Linked DNA regions of Homo sapiens. The protein of the gene in region 1 interacts with the protein of each later gene in a pairwise test. Each region holds a gene or a part of one and is shown in the gene's direction. Other genes may lie near its edges.

What was found.
Region 2: the proteins of WRNIP1 (region 1) and TRIM14 interact in a two-hybrid assay, tested with the Homo sapiens proteins (one study listed by BioGRID).

Annotation. Positions count from the first base shown.
Region 1 is NC_000006.12:2,775,201-2,782,492, forward strand, and holds part of WRNIP1 (ATPase WRNIP1), read left to right. Parts: intron 1-4,062; coding exon 4,063-4,292; intron 4,293-7,292. UniProt on the Homo sapiens protein: Functions as a modulator of initiation or reinitiation events during DNA polymerase delta-mediated DNA synthesis. In the presence of ATP, stimulation of DNA polymerase delta-mediated DNA synthesis is decreased.
Region 2 is NC_000009.12:98,083,565-98,088,226, reverse strand, and holds the end of TRIM14 (tripartite motif-containing protein 14), read left to right. Parts: intron 1-221; coding exon 222-757; 3' UTR 758-3,874; downstream 3,875-4,662.

The DNA of each region.
Region 1 (7,292 bases):
GCTCGGTTTTTCTGTTCTGACTTTTCTCTCTTGGCACTTCTTTGTGTAAGAGCAGCAGGAGAGCCTTTTAACCAGATCTGCACATCACACTTCCCTGGGATACATTTTAGAAACATGCCTTGCCCAGGGTCTGCCCCTGGAGATTTGAGCTCAGTCTATGGTAGGTAAGGTACATGTGGCTGTATTTGTGTCTAACTTGATGCATATCCCTGGTTGAAACTTCTACACAGCAGTTATCACCCTGACCATGAAATGTTCCTTTTCCTTAGTGGAAGAGATTTGTGGGGTTTGGTTTGTAATTTAGAGAGGGAGAGTTTAACCAAGCCATGCATATTCTTTCATTCTGCCTTGAAATAACAGGTACATTTTTACTTACTGCACTCCTTCTCCAACTTACATATCCAGCTGTCTAAGTAGTATCCTCCAAATTCCAGTATTACCCAATGTGTAGAAAGCTTCAGGATTTAGGCACCTGGAAGAGGAAAGAAGAGAGCTTCCTATATTCTTCTGTTAAAATTAAAGCCCTTCTCATCAGTTGGAGAAGCCAAGCTCTCTTAAGTCTGTTTCTATCTCTAGGTTTTGTTAACTAGAAATAGAATCTTTTCCAATGCATTTATTTTAACCAATTTTCCCTTATTATAAATAGTGTTTTATTATAACAACATAATTTACTTCCTATTGTTTATTTCCATGTAGGATGTTATGACATTTTGGGCAGTCTATCCCCAGAATAGATTTTACCTCTTTTTATTGTATTCTACCTTTGGAAGGTTATTTTTAAGTGCAAAACACTTTATAAATATATGCTTAATTTTAATATATGCTTAAATTTAAAAATAATTGTAAATTCTCTAGACTGGGAACACTCTTTCAAAATAGTTTGTGCCGCAGTTTGCTGAGGGATTTTGCCAATATCAATACAACTATCCCTTCATCATTCTTGGCATGAGTTCTCTCATGGGCTTCCCATTCTAAGATCTCAGGGTATTTTAGTATATCTTACTTCGTTCTTCAGAACTTAGTAAATGGGAGTTCAAGATATATTGGGTGTTTAAGTGGAACCTTTCCCTGCTCAGTCGTCTTCACAGTGAATCTCCATTTTGTAATTTTCTTGTGTGATCATTGTGAGTGCTGTCAGCAGGTCCTGTATTACTTGGACAGAGTTGCCGACAGATTGATCTGGGCCTCGAAATACTTTCTTCTTTTGGACGGGGTGAAATTTAAAATGTGGATTATACCCAAGGGGAGGAAGAAGAAGGGAGTGGCGCGAGCTCAGGTAGCTTTCGTTGTGGCAGCACCTCCATTCCCCATGACTCCAAACCAGAAGTGTGGAACCACTTGTACTTTGGTCAGGAGTTTAAAAGCCAAAGGAAGACCTTATTTTCCAACCACATAAAATACATAATCATTGCTAAAGACTTATTCACAGCATACTGTTGATAAATCAATGGAGTAGACGGCTAGCTGGCTTCTGTCCTAATTAATAAGGCCTGCCTCCCTGTCTGTATATGAGGACTAATGGAAATGAGGCAGTTTATACTAGTAAATACCATGGTATATAAGGCTGCCCATCTCGTCACTGTCCAAAGAGCATGCCATGCCCCTAAATACATACAAAAGACAAATTCATGGAGAAGGGATACATACCAAAATACTAACGTCAAGGTAGTCTAGCAGAAGGTGAATTTTCTCCCTTTGTCTATTTTTAAAATTTAATGTAAATTTTTTTAAAGTAAATGTTGACAGGTCTGAGTAGCTTGTTTTTCAAACAATTATTTAATGGTTAAGGATGTAAAACTATGTAAAATATGGTCCCAGTTTTTGTTTTAGGTTAGCTGTAAGGTTGATGGTTGCATGGGTGAGTGGATCGTAAAGTCAGCACTTGGCACAGTAGCTTTCATTCTGCTGGAAATATCAAGTACATTTTTATCTCTCAGTGCTGGAAATATGGATTCTTTTTGTTTTCTCTATACTTTCCATATAATTTATAAGAAGTAAAGGTTTCACTCTGAGATTATGATAAAACTGAAGTTAGTCCATTCATTTTGCAAATATTGGATGCCTATCATCTACCAGGTCTGGGAATACAAAGAATAAAATATTCCTCTCCTTGAGGTGCTCCGCATAGTAGGGATGATGAATGTAATGTAATCAACACACAATCCAACCCATGGTGCAGGATATAGGCTAGTTCAGTCCGTTAGGATCCAATGGGGCTCCTGCTTTGACTCCTTTTTCTTCCCTCAATTGTCCTGAAGGCTTTTTGTTGCTAGGCAGCTTTCCAAGGAGAGAGAATCCATTGTTTTTACTAGTTCTGAGGCAGAAATGAGATGCCCAAGCAGTTTCTGTTCTCCCTACCTGTCTTCCCACACAGGTTGAGTGCAGTAAGGGGCTGAGAGTGCACCCTTCCCTCTCAGGCATGTCACGTACTGCTACACCCCTGTGATGCTGGTCCTTCCCCATACATTTTCTTTAGTATATGTTCTGTCCATCATTATCTTCTAAATCATCTTCCAGAAGACTTGCTAACTAATTTCTGGTTGAGCAGTGATCCCCAGGCTTTATAGAGTGCCAGTGACATGGCCTCGGTGTTTGTTTTTTTGTTGTTCTGGTGAGGTCTGCTGAGAGAATGCTACCATCAGGAGAGAGGAAGATGGGTCTCCAGGCTGCACCACTGGCTCTGGGGCCCAGGCAGTTGGCATGAGTGAGGAGAGAGTCATTTGTTGTAAAGCTGGGGCTGGCCAGTTGTCTTAGGTGTGGTGAGAGACCCACAAGGAATAACTGGAAATCAACTTTGGTAAATATGGGGGTGAGATGAGGCATCTTTAAGGCATTGGGAACAAATCCTTCCGTGAATGAAATGCAGATTGGTGTTATTTGGGTTACTCAGTGAGCAGAGTAGTGTCAGTGAGTGGGTGTATGCTGAGGAGTTCTGCATTGATCCAGCAGGCAAGCTGGGTCCCCTTCGGAAACTGCCACCCCTCCCCGGCCCAGCCCCGTTGGTGCCTGTACATTGTTTTCCAGGTAGCTGATTCGGACAGTCCTAATGGGCTTATTATTTACTGTAGATGTTCTCAGCTGAATGTTGATGACATGGGTGAACTGTAACTGAAAAATTTTATTTTTTTGCTTCACAAATGTGCAGCTAGCAGCTCAGCCAGGAATAAGACCCCACTAAGTTATGAAATGTGTTAGATGTCTTGTTTAACTCAACTAGGGATAGAAAATTTTACTGAGTCAGCCTTCTGATCATAGTTAGATCTTATTTATGAGGGTCCAAATTTAGAAATGTGACTGTAAGTTTTAGTCCTGATGTTCAGAGAGAGGTTAGGTGGCTTACCCAGGGTCTCATGGCTATGTACCAGCAGTCTTCTCGTCGCTTCCCAGGCTAATGACCTCTCTGCTACCCTGTGCGGATTTTGCATGATTAGTGTCCACTATGAGATGACCTACTGCAGCATCCCAAGATTCCCCAGGCCAAGAGAATCCTGAGACCTGCTTCTAGGACCTGCTGTGCTCAGAGTAACTAGGGACCCAATTTGTTGTTTTTAAAATGAAGGAATTGAACTGCATGATCTGGAGCCCTTCAGAGCTAATATTCAGATATAATGCTGACTCTCCCCTGTGTGGAAAGTGGTCTAAGCACATCTGTCTCATCGGATGTAGGCTGCATTTGGAACATGTTTTCCATACACGGTAATGAGGTGCTAGCATTTCTAATAAAGTTTTCACTGTTGTGCAGGGTAGAACCAGAGAGACCACCTGTCAACAGTGACTTTCCAGGCCAGTCAGTGTCTGTTTCACACAGACTTAGATGTATGAACCTATGCAGTGAGATACCCTCGACACTCATAAGATACAGGGCGATAACCTGGTGACTTAGGAGCCCCAGTCAGTTCGTAGTCTTGATGATGCTTAAGCACATTGACAAAGGTGAGAATAAGAGGCAAAGGCCTTGAACTCTTCAGTGTCCTTGCTGAGAAGTATGAGTTTCTAAGACATGTGCAGAACAAGAAGTATGCAGCCTGAGTGTGACCGTAACTAACCCTGCTTGTGTTTCAGGCCCGCCATGTTCATAGAGGATAAAGCAGTAGACACCCTGGCTTACCTCAGTGACGGTGACGCCCGAGCTGGGTTGAACGGACTGCAGCTGGCGGTGCTGGCTAGGTTAAGCTCTAGGAAGATGTTCTGTAAGAAGAGTGGGCAATCCTATTCTCCCAGTAGAGTTCTGATCACAGAGAATGACGTGAAGGAGGGCCTACAGCGATCCCACATTTTATATGACCGGGCAGGTAAGTAATTCACCTGTGGAAAGAGTGAAACCATACGGAAAGAAGTGTGTGCACACATTCTCATTTCCGGAAGCCTGACTGGGTTCCGGAAGCATTCCAGCTGGGTCCAGAGCATTCCAGTGATTCTCAGGTGGATCTGCATGTTGGTATTAAGCCTTCTACACAGGGCTGACCTTTCCGAAGAGAGGCATGAAGCAGAAGCTGCCCTGTTGAGAATCTAGAGGAGTTTTGGGGTTGGAAATGGCAGGCTGCACATTCACCTTAGAAGGTAGTTGGCTATTCCCCACCTTGCAGAATACAATCACCTTTGAAAGCCTGTGCATTCACTTGACAATGAATATGTTTTGTGATCATTTACAACGGCAGTAAATAAAAAGAGGACTTTTGTCATAATGACTTATTAGTTTTAATTGAGAATTAAAATGCTTTATTTCTAGAGTCTATACTAAAAAATAGTCATGGATCTTGAAGTTTTTATTTTATGTAGTAGCTTTTTCAAAAATTTAATTTTGCTGTGTGCACTTATCTGTTTTTGTAGAACTGCATTTACAGATAGCAGATTTGATACCAGCTCTTATTAAATCTGTGACTTAGCAATATTAAATGTCATTAGCACAGCACATTTGCATCTTTTTATAAAAGAAGTGGGAGATGAATATAACATACTGTAGATTAGCAAACTTCTGCTGCTTGAGCATTTGTGGGACTTTGGATGGAATCATGTTGCAGTAACTGTGGAATATAATTTCCACACTTTTCAAAGCTCTGCCAGAAAAGGAGGCTGATAATTGAATGTTCCTGATCTCACGTAGGCTGTGCCACGTGACAATGGAGAGTCCTTACTGGTTAGAGAAGGGGTGGAGGGGCTTAAGAATGACTTTGGTTCCAAGCGCTGCCTCTTCGTGGGTGAGCACACTCGCTGCATGACCTAGGGGGGCTGACCAAAGCTTTTTGGCTTTAGCGTGCCTCAGCTGATGGTAGCTCAGGGGTGTTCATTAGTGCTAAGGACACACTGGCAAGTTGAATAAATAATCCTGTCTACATTGTGACGTGAATGTGCCTCAGCGGGGCCTGCTCAGATGGCTGGCTCTCCCTAGTGCTCTGGAGCATGACGTGAATGCTTGCAAAGTCTGAAAAGCAACACATTCTAGGTGTGTAGAGCCCTGCTTGACTTTTGGTCAAATAGAAAAAATGTAGATATGAACAAGAAAAAAGATTTTAAGACATTAAAAAAATCTCACCATGCCGGGATCGCCATTGTTTCTGAAGTGCAGCAGCAGCGGTCTCTCTCTCTCTTCTTGTAGGTGTCCCAAAGGATTTGCCTTGTTTTGATTGGAACGACTAGGACTGTTCTTTGACATTTTATCAGACTGTCACTTGAGATCCATATAACATGGCATTCACTAACACTCAGCCATTGAGTATTTTATAGGTGTATTCATTTTTTAAATTCTCAAAATTGCTTTATGGAGATAGCTATTAATATTACCCCCATTTTAAGATAACAAAGCAAGTGGTGAAACTGACCCGTAAATCCAGGTCTTACTGGTTCCCAAGACTGTCCTTCCCCCCGTCCGCATTTGCCTCCACACCAGCCTTGCCATGCTGTTACTGATCTCACCCATTACATCATGCTCCTGAGAGGGGTCACCCGTCCATGCACATACAGAGCGGATCTTGGAGGGGTTCAGTCCTAGGAATCCCACTTCCTGAGCTCCACGTTGCAGAGCTCTGCACAGTGGGGATCACCTTGTCTATAGCTTGGAGCTGGGGGGTGGTGGAGGCTGCCTAGTGCCGCTGCCTAGTGCCAGCGCCTTAAGAACCCCACATCCTATACATCTTCCCAGTATGAGTGTGTTTACACACCCCACCCCAGTGCAACATGTCTGCCCCACAGTGGATCCGCAGACACATAAATATCATTCAGATCTTGGAGAAAGCTGCTTTTACAGGCTTTGCTCTATAAATAGGGATAGTGGAAGCATTGCCCTGGAAACCTGTTAGCTTATACTCTTGGGCCTTTTTATAACTCCAGTGAGACAAAGACCCACCCCCAGAGTTGTGATTATTTTTGTATATGCCACCTAGTTCATAGTTACCCACTAGTAGGATCCAGTGATGTTTCTGCATCAGAGTGAAGGAATTTCTAAATGAGAGCAAACTCTCTGCCATGCATTGACATCGGGGTTCTATAGAAGTCGTCAGATTTCAGGTTATAAAGCAGTGTGTAATAAAAGCAAACATGGAAGGTAGCATAGAATAATACTAGTATCTATCACTGATGCAAAAGAATCTTTTTACAGTGCCTGCTCTGTGCCAGGCGTGTGTTATTTAATACAGCCCTGTGAGGTAAGTGGTCTCGTTTTTCCCATTTTACAGATGAGAAACCTGAGGCACAGTGAGGATCAGGAACTTGCCCATGGCCCATGAGCTTGGGGGTCCAGCCCAGGCTGTTTGGTCCCAGAGCCTGTGCTCTTGTCCATTATACTGGTGGTATTGCCCCTGGCATTGACAAAGTGGGAAAAGATGACTAACCTGTGTAGGGGGAGTTTAAATTTGACATAAAGTGGTGTGGGTAGTTTCTTCCAGCCCCCATGCCCGTGAGTTTAGCCAGGCCTGTTACCTGCTACCCTCTTCCCCGCCTTCCTCCACCCTGCAGAGGAGCAGAGCGTAGCCTGAGTGCCTGGGCCAGCAGGGTGAGGGAGTGGGCCAGAACCATGCAGATGTCATCCAGGACACCCTCTCGGCCAGTGTCCATAGCACTCTGACTTCACCAGGGGAGCCCTGCACAGGAGACACTCAGTTTGTTCTCAGAAATCCAGTAGCTGGGCTGACCCATCCATCTGCCCTGGCTCTCAGAAACCAGAATCACTCAGGCTGAGCCGTGGGTCCTGCAGGTCTTTCCCCTGTGGGAGGCCAGCATCTTCGCTTGCTCTCTTCTCCACCTGAAGACCAACTGTCATCTTACCAGCGAGCTCAGCTGCCAGGGTTTGTGGCTGG
Region 2 (4,662 bases), on another chromosome or scaffold:
ACAGACAGTATAAGGGATGTGCAGCAGAGTGATCTCTTCTTCCCCTTTCCCCAAGACCCCGCCCCAGGGGCAGTCGCGGTTTAAAGGGGTCTGTCACCCCTTCCTTGGGCCATTTCCGCGCTTCGCATTTTGTGATTTGCACGTGCGTTGGTGGGTTCCCGGGGGCGGGGCGCCGCGCTGGCCCCGCCCACCAGGTGCGTCCCTTGTCTCGCCCCCTGCAGACGCGCGCACGCCCACGCTGGATCCTGACACGATGCACGCGCGCCTGCGCCTGTCCGCCGATCGCCTGACGGTGCGCTGCGGCCTGCTGGGCAGCCTGGGGCCCGTGCCCGTGCTGCGGTTCGACGCGCTCTGGCAAGTGCTGGCTCGTGACTGCTTCGCCACCGGCCGCCACTACTGGGAGGTTGACGTGCAGGAGGCGGGCGCCGGCTGGTGGGTGGGCGCGGCCTACGCCTCCCTTCGGCGCCGCGGGGCCTCGGCCGCCGCCCGCCTGGGCTGCAACCGCCAGTCCTGGTGCCTCAAGCGCTACGACCTTGAGTACTGGGCCTTCCACGACGGCCAGCGCAGCCGCCTGCGGCCCCGCGACGACCTCGACCGGCTCGGCGTCTTCCTGGACTACGAGGCCGGCGTCCTCGCCTTCTACGACGTGACGGGCGGCATGAGCCACCTGCATACCTTCCGCGCCACGTTCCAGGAGCCGCTCTACCCGGCCCTGCGGCTCTGGGAGGGGGCCATCAGCATCCCCCGGCTGCCCTAGGGGCCAGGACCGGCGTGACAGCCTCCAGGTACGCCGCAGCTGCCCAGTCTCGCCTAATCTACCTAGATCAGCGTGGCTGGTCCCCTTACTGCCTGCTTCTTAGGGCCCTCTCCCTGCCCCAGCTTTCCCCGACCAATCACGCCTACAGTGCTTTGAAGGTTTCCTCTCCTAGGCTAGTTTCAAACAGGCCCTAAACAAGTCTGCTGCTGCCCTCTCATCAGACCTCCGCACCCTCACCCCACCATCACTTACACTACTTTAATCCAGTTCCTTCAAAGTGATACCCCCACAGGTAAGCCCTCAGCATCCTGAATACATCATCCGCAGCCTGGGAACCTTCTCCCTCGTACAGCACAGGAACCTGACACATAGTAGGCACACAGTAAACGTTTGTGAATGAATGGGAGTCATCCAGTCCTGACTCTTCTGTCTCTTGAGGTCCCTTGAATCTTCCGCTTCCTCCCCACCGATTTCAGCGTGTCCACATCACAGCTCCCTCCAGAAGCTGCAAGAGCTTCTTAGCAGTTCCTGGTCTGAACCCTCTCCCAGTCCTCATCTTCCACCCTAAAACTAGAGTGATCTTCCTAAAACTTCACTTAACCCCTCAGCTATGAAAAGGCTTCCAGGAGTTTCCATGAAATAACAAAAAAAAATACAAGCGCCTCACCTTAGCATTCAAGGCTTGTCTAGTCTGCCCAAAATTACTTATCCTCACCTAGCTCCTACCACTCTTCTTAGAGACTCTCCAGTCAGAAATGTGTCGCATAGTTCCACCTCCACACCTCTCTGCTGCCAGCACATTCATGCAGAAAAGTCTTTTCACCTGTCTCAGTCTTCCGCAGGCTTACCTGCGCCAGGAAGTCTAACCAAGGAACAAGAATCTCACTATCAGAGCCACAAATCTGGGACCTGTCTTTCCAACTAAATTGGAGGCTTTGGAAGGGCAGCTTTGTCCTATACTCTCTCCACCCTGAAAAGTTCCCAGAAAGCCCCTTCCCTCCCAAGCAGTGAATTAATAACCAGCAGGTGCCTATCACTGAGTAACAGAAGAGCTGAGTTAGGCGGGCCTCACAGGTCACCCAGCCAGATCTCATCTGGGGAGTCTGAGGTCCTGAAAGAAAGCAGAGCTGCGTAAAGTTACCCCGGGGTGATATAGGGGGGCCAGACGTGTGCCCCGTTCACCCACCCCCAGGCAAGCATCTGACCTGTCCCCTGGCCCAGCCCTTAGGCCCAGCTTTCAACCTGCTTACTCATTTCTCAGGGGATTTTGGGAAGGAATCAGCAGGTGACAGTTGCTAAGCAACCAAAGGGGGTGGTGTTTCCCAACTGTCTTGGGACAAAAAGGGTAAGAGCACCCTTAGATCCAGATGTTGCCAAGGAAACCCAGAGTGCCCAGCTGTCTGGAATGAAGTGACAGAGGTAGAAAACAGTAGGCCCTCACAGGAGGCCACCTTCGCTAGCAGGGAGTGGGAGGCTTCTTTCCAGGGATTTGTGTCTCCGTTCTGAAGGTTCTGCGTCCTGTTTTGTCAATTCCCTAGACGGTTTTGAAGTTATATTCTGTTAAAGCATCTTCATAGGTGCTTGGTGGGAGGCCAAGGTCGCCGAATCCTCGTGGTTTAAATAGACTTTCAGTGCATTAGTTTGAACCATATAAAACTGACAATTTTCAATAGTTTTTGAGTTAAAAATGGCACTTTTGATATGAGACAATGTAGCAGAATACCAGGCAGACAGAACCTTGCAAACACCTTAACTTCTAACCAAAGACTTTAAAACTCTGGCTGGACAGAGTTTTAAGCACTATGCTGCAGGAATCCTGAGAAAAAGGGGAAATTAATTCTATTAGGAATGGCCCAAACTGAATTGTGACAGGCAGAGGGTGTTCCTGACAGAGGGAAGATGAATACACTTGACCCCAACATTTCTGCCCATCCCTGATGACCAAGACCTCTTCCCAGACCCACAGCTGCAGGGGCCAAGTAATAACAGCTCTTAATAGTTTATAATGCACTGTTTTAATGCTTTACGACTAAACTCATCTGATCCTTTCATCAGCCCTAGAGGGTAGAAAGTTTTCCCAATTCTACACATGGCAAAATGGAGACCCAGAGTCACTTGCCCAAGGTCGCACAGCTAGTGGTGGAGCTGGAGTCTGGGCCCAGGCTGTGAGTTCCAGGTCTGTGCTCATGGCCACCAGGCCCTACTGCTCAGGGTGAATGCAGCTGGTCTCTGGCCAGTGCCTGGTGCTCTGGCCCCTCTCGTGGAGCTACTGCCCATGATGCTTTCCTAGTGCCTGGTTACTCTGCGAGACTTGAGTCTACCTTTGGACTGCCTTCCTTGGGGGTCTGAGATGAGGCCTTATGGCCCAGAGGGGAACTTGATTCAAAAATTTGGGATTCATGTAGCAGAGACAGAGCTAGACTGTAAAGGTCACAAACTAGCTGTGTCAAGGCCCGTGATAGCCAGAAAGCGGCAGTTTCAGTCCATATCAATTGTGTGACCAGGGCTAGTCACTTTTTACTTCTCAGTGCCATCTATAAAATGGGGATAATAGCACTACCTACCAAGTGCTGTGAGGCTCAAATGAGCCAAAGGTTATAAACTTGCCTTAAAACTATAGTCCTATACAAAAATTAGCTGGGCGTGGTGGTGCATGCCTGTAATCCCAGCTACTAGGGAGGCTGAGGCAAGAGAGTTGCTTGAACCCAGGAGGCGGAGATTGCAGTGAGCTGAGATTGCACCACTGCACTCCAGCCTGGGGACAGAGCAAGACTCTTGTCTCAAAAAAAACAAAAAAAACATATATACTGCTGTATCATGCCAGGATTTATCAGCATTCCCAAGGGAGCTTGCACGGTACTGACCGAGTGCTGAGACTACTGGTATTCCCAGCTGCCATGTGGCAGCAGCAGGAGCTACTAGAATATTCTCAGCACAGGAATGAGGCTTCCTTGGTTTCCATGTCTGTAAGGGTTACTGATCACTTACCTTCTTCTCTTTCAGACTTGAATCTGTAGACATTTCTTTATTGATATGGCAAATTGCTTGCAGATATTTTTAAATGACAGCAATTTTCTAATATTTGGTTTAATAAAATGTGAATAATGTCCCTTTTAACCATGGTCTTCACTGGGAGTTCATGTTGCTTCAAGTCCCTAGCACCCAGTGATACCCCCACAGGTAAGCCCTCAGCATCCTGAATACATCATCCGCAGCCTGGGAACCTTCTCCCTCGTACAGCACAGGAACCTGACACATAGTAGGCACACAGTAAACATTTGTGAATGAATGGGAGTCATCCAGTCCTGACTCTTCTGTCTCTTGAGGTCCCTTGAATCTTCCGCTTCCTCCCCACCGATTTCAGCGTGTCCACATCACAGCTCCCTCCAGTTCATGTTGCTTCAAGTCCCTAGCACCCAGACCCAGAAGGGCCTTTACTCATATCTTATTCCTTACGCAGCCTTCTGGTAGTAGTCAGCTGCTCCCTGATTAACTATCTCCAGGGATGGGGCATTCACTGCTTCTGAAGATAACTCATTAAAGTTCTCACTTACGTGTAAACAAACCCTGACTCCCACCTGTTCCCATCCAAGATCGTATTATAGCTTGAACTCCTGGTCTCAAGCAATCCTCCCACCTCAGCCTCCTAAGTAGTTGGGATTACAGGCTCACACAAGCACGCCTGGCTCACATACCACCTTCTAACATATTGTGTGACTGAATCACTATGCTATGGATTTTTATGCATCTGCCCCCATCTGAATGGAAGTTCTCTGAGGAAGGGATTGGGGCTTGTTCATGGCCATATACTCTGTGCCTAAAGCAGTGCCTGGCACAAAGATGGCCCTCAATATTTGTTCAGAGAAGGAACACATGCCATTTCCCTCTCTTTGCTCTGAAAGGAG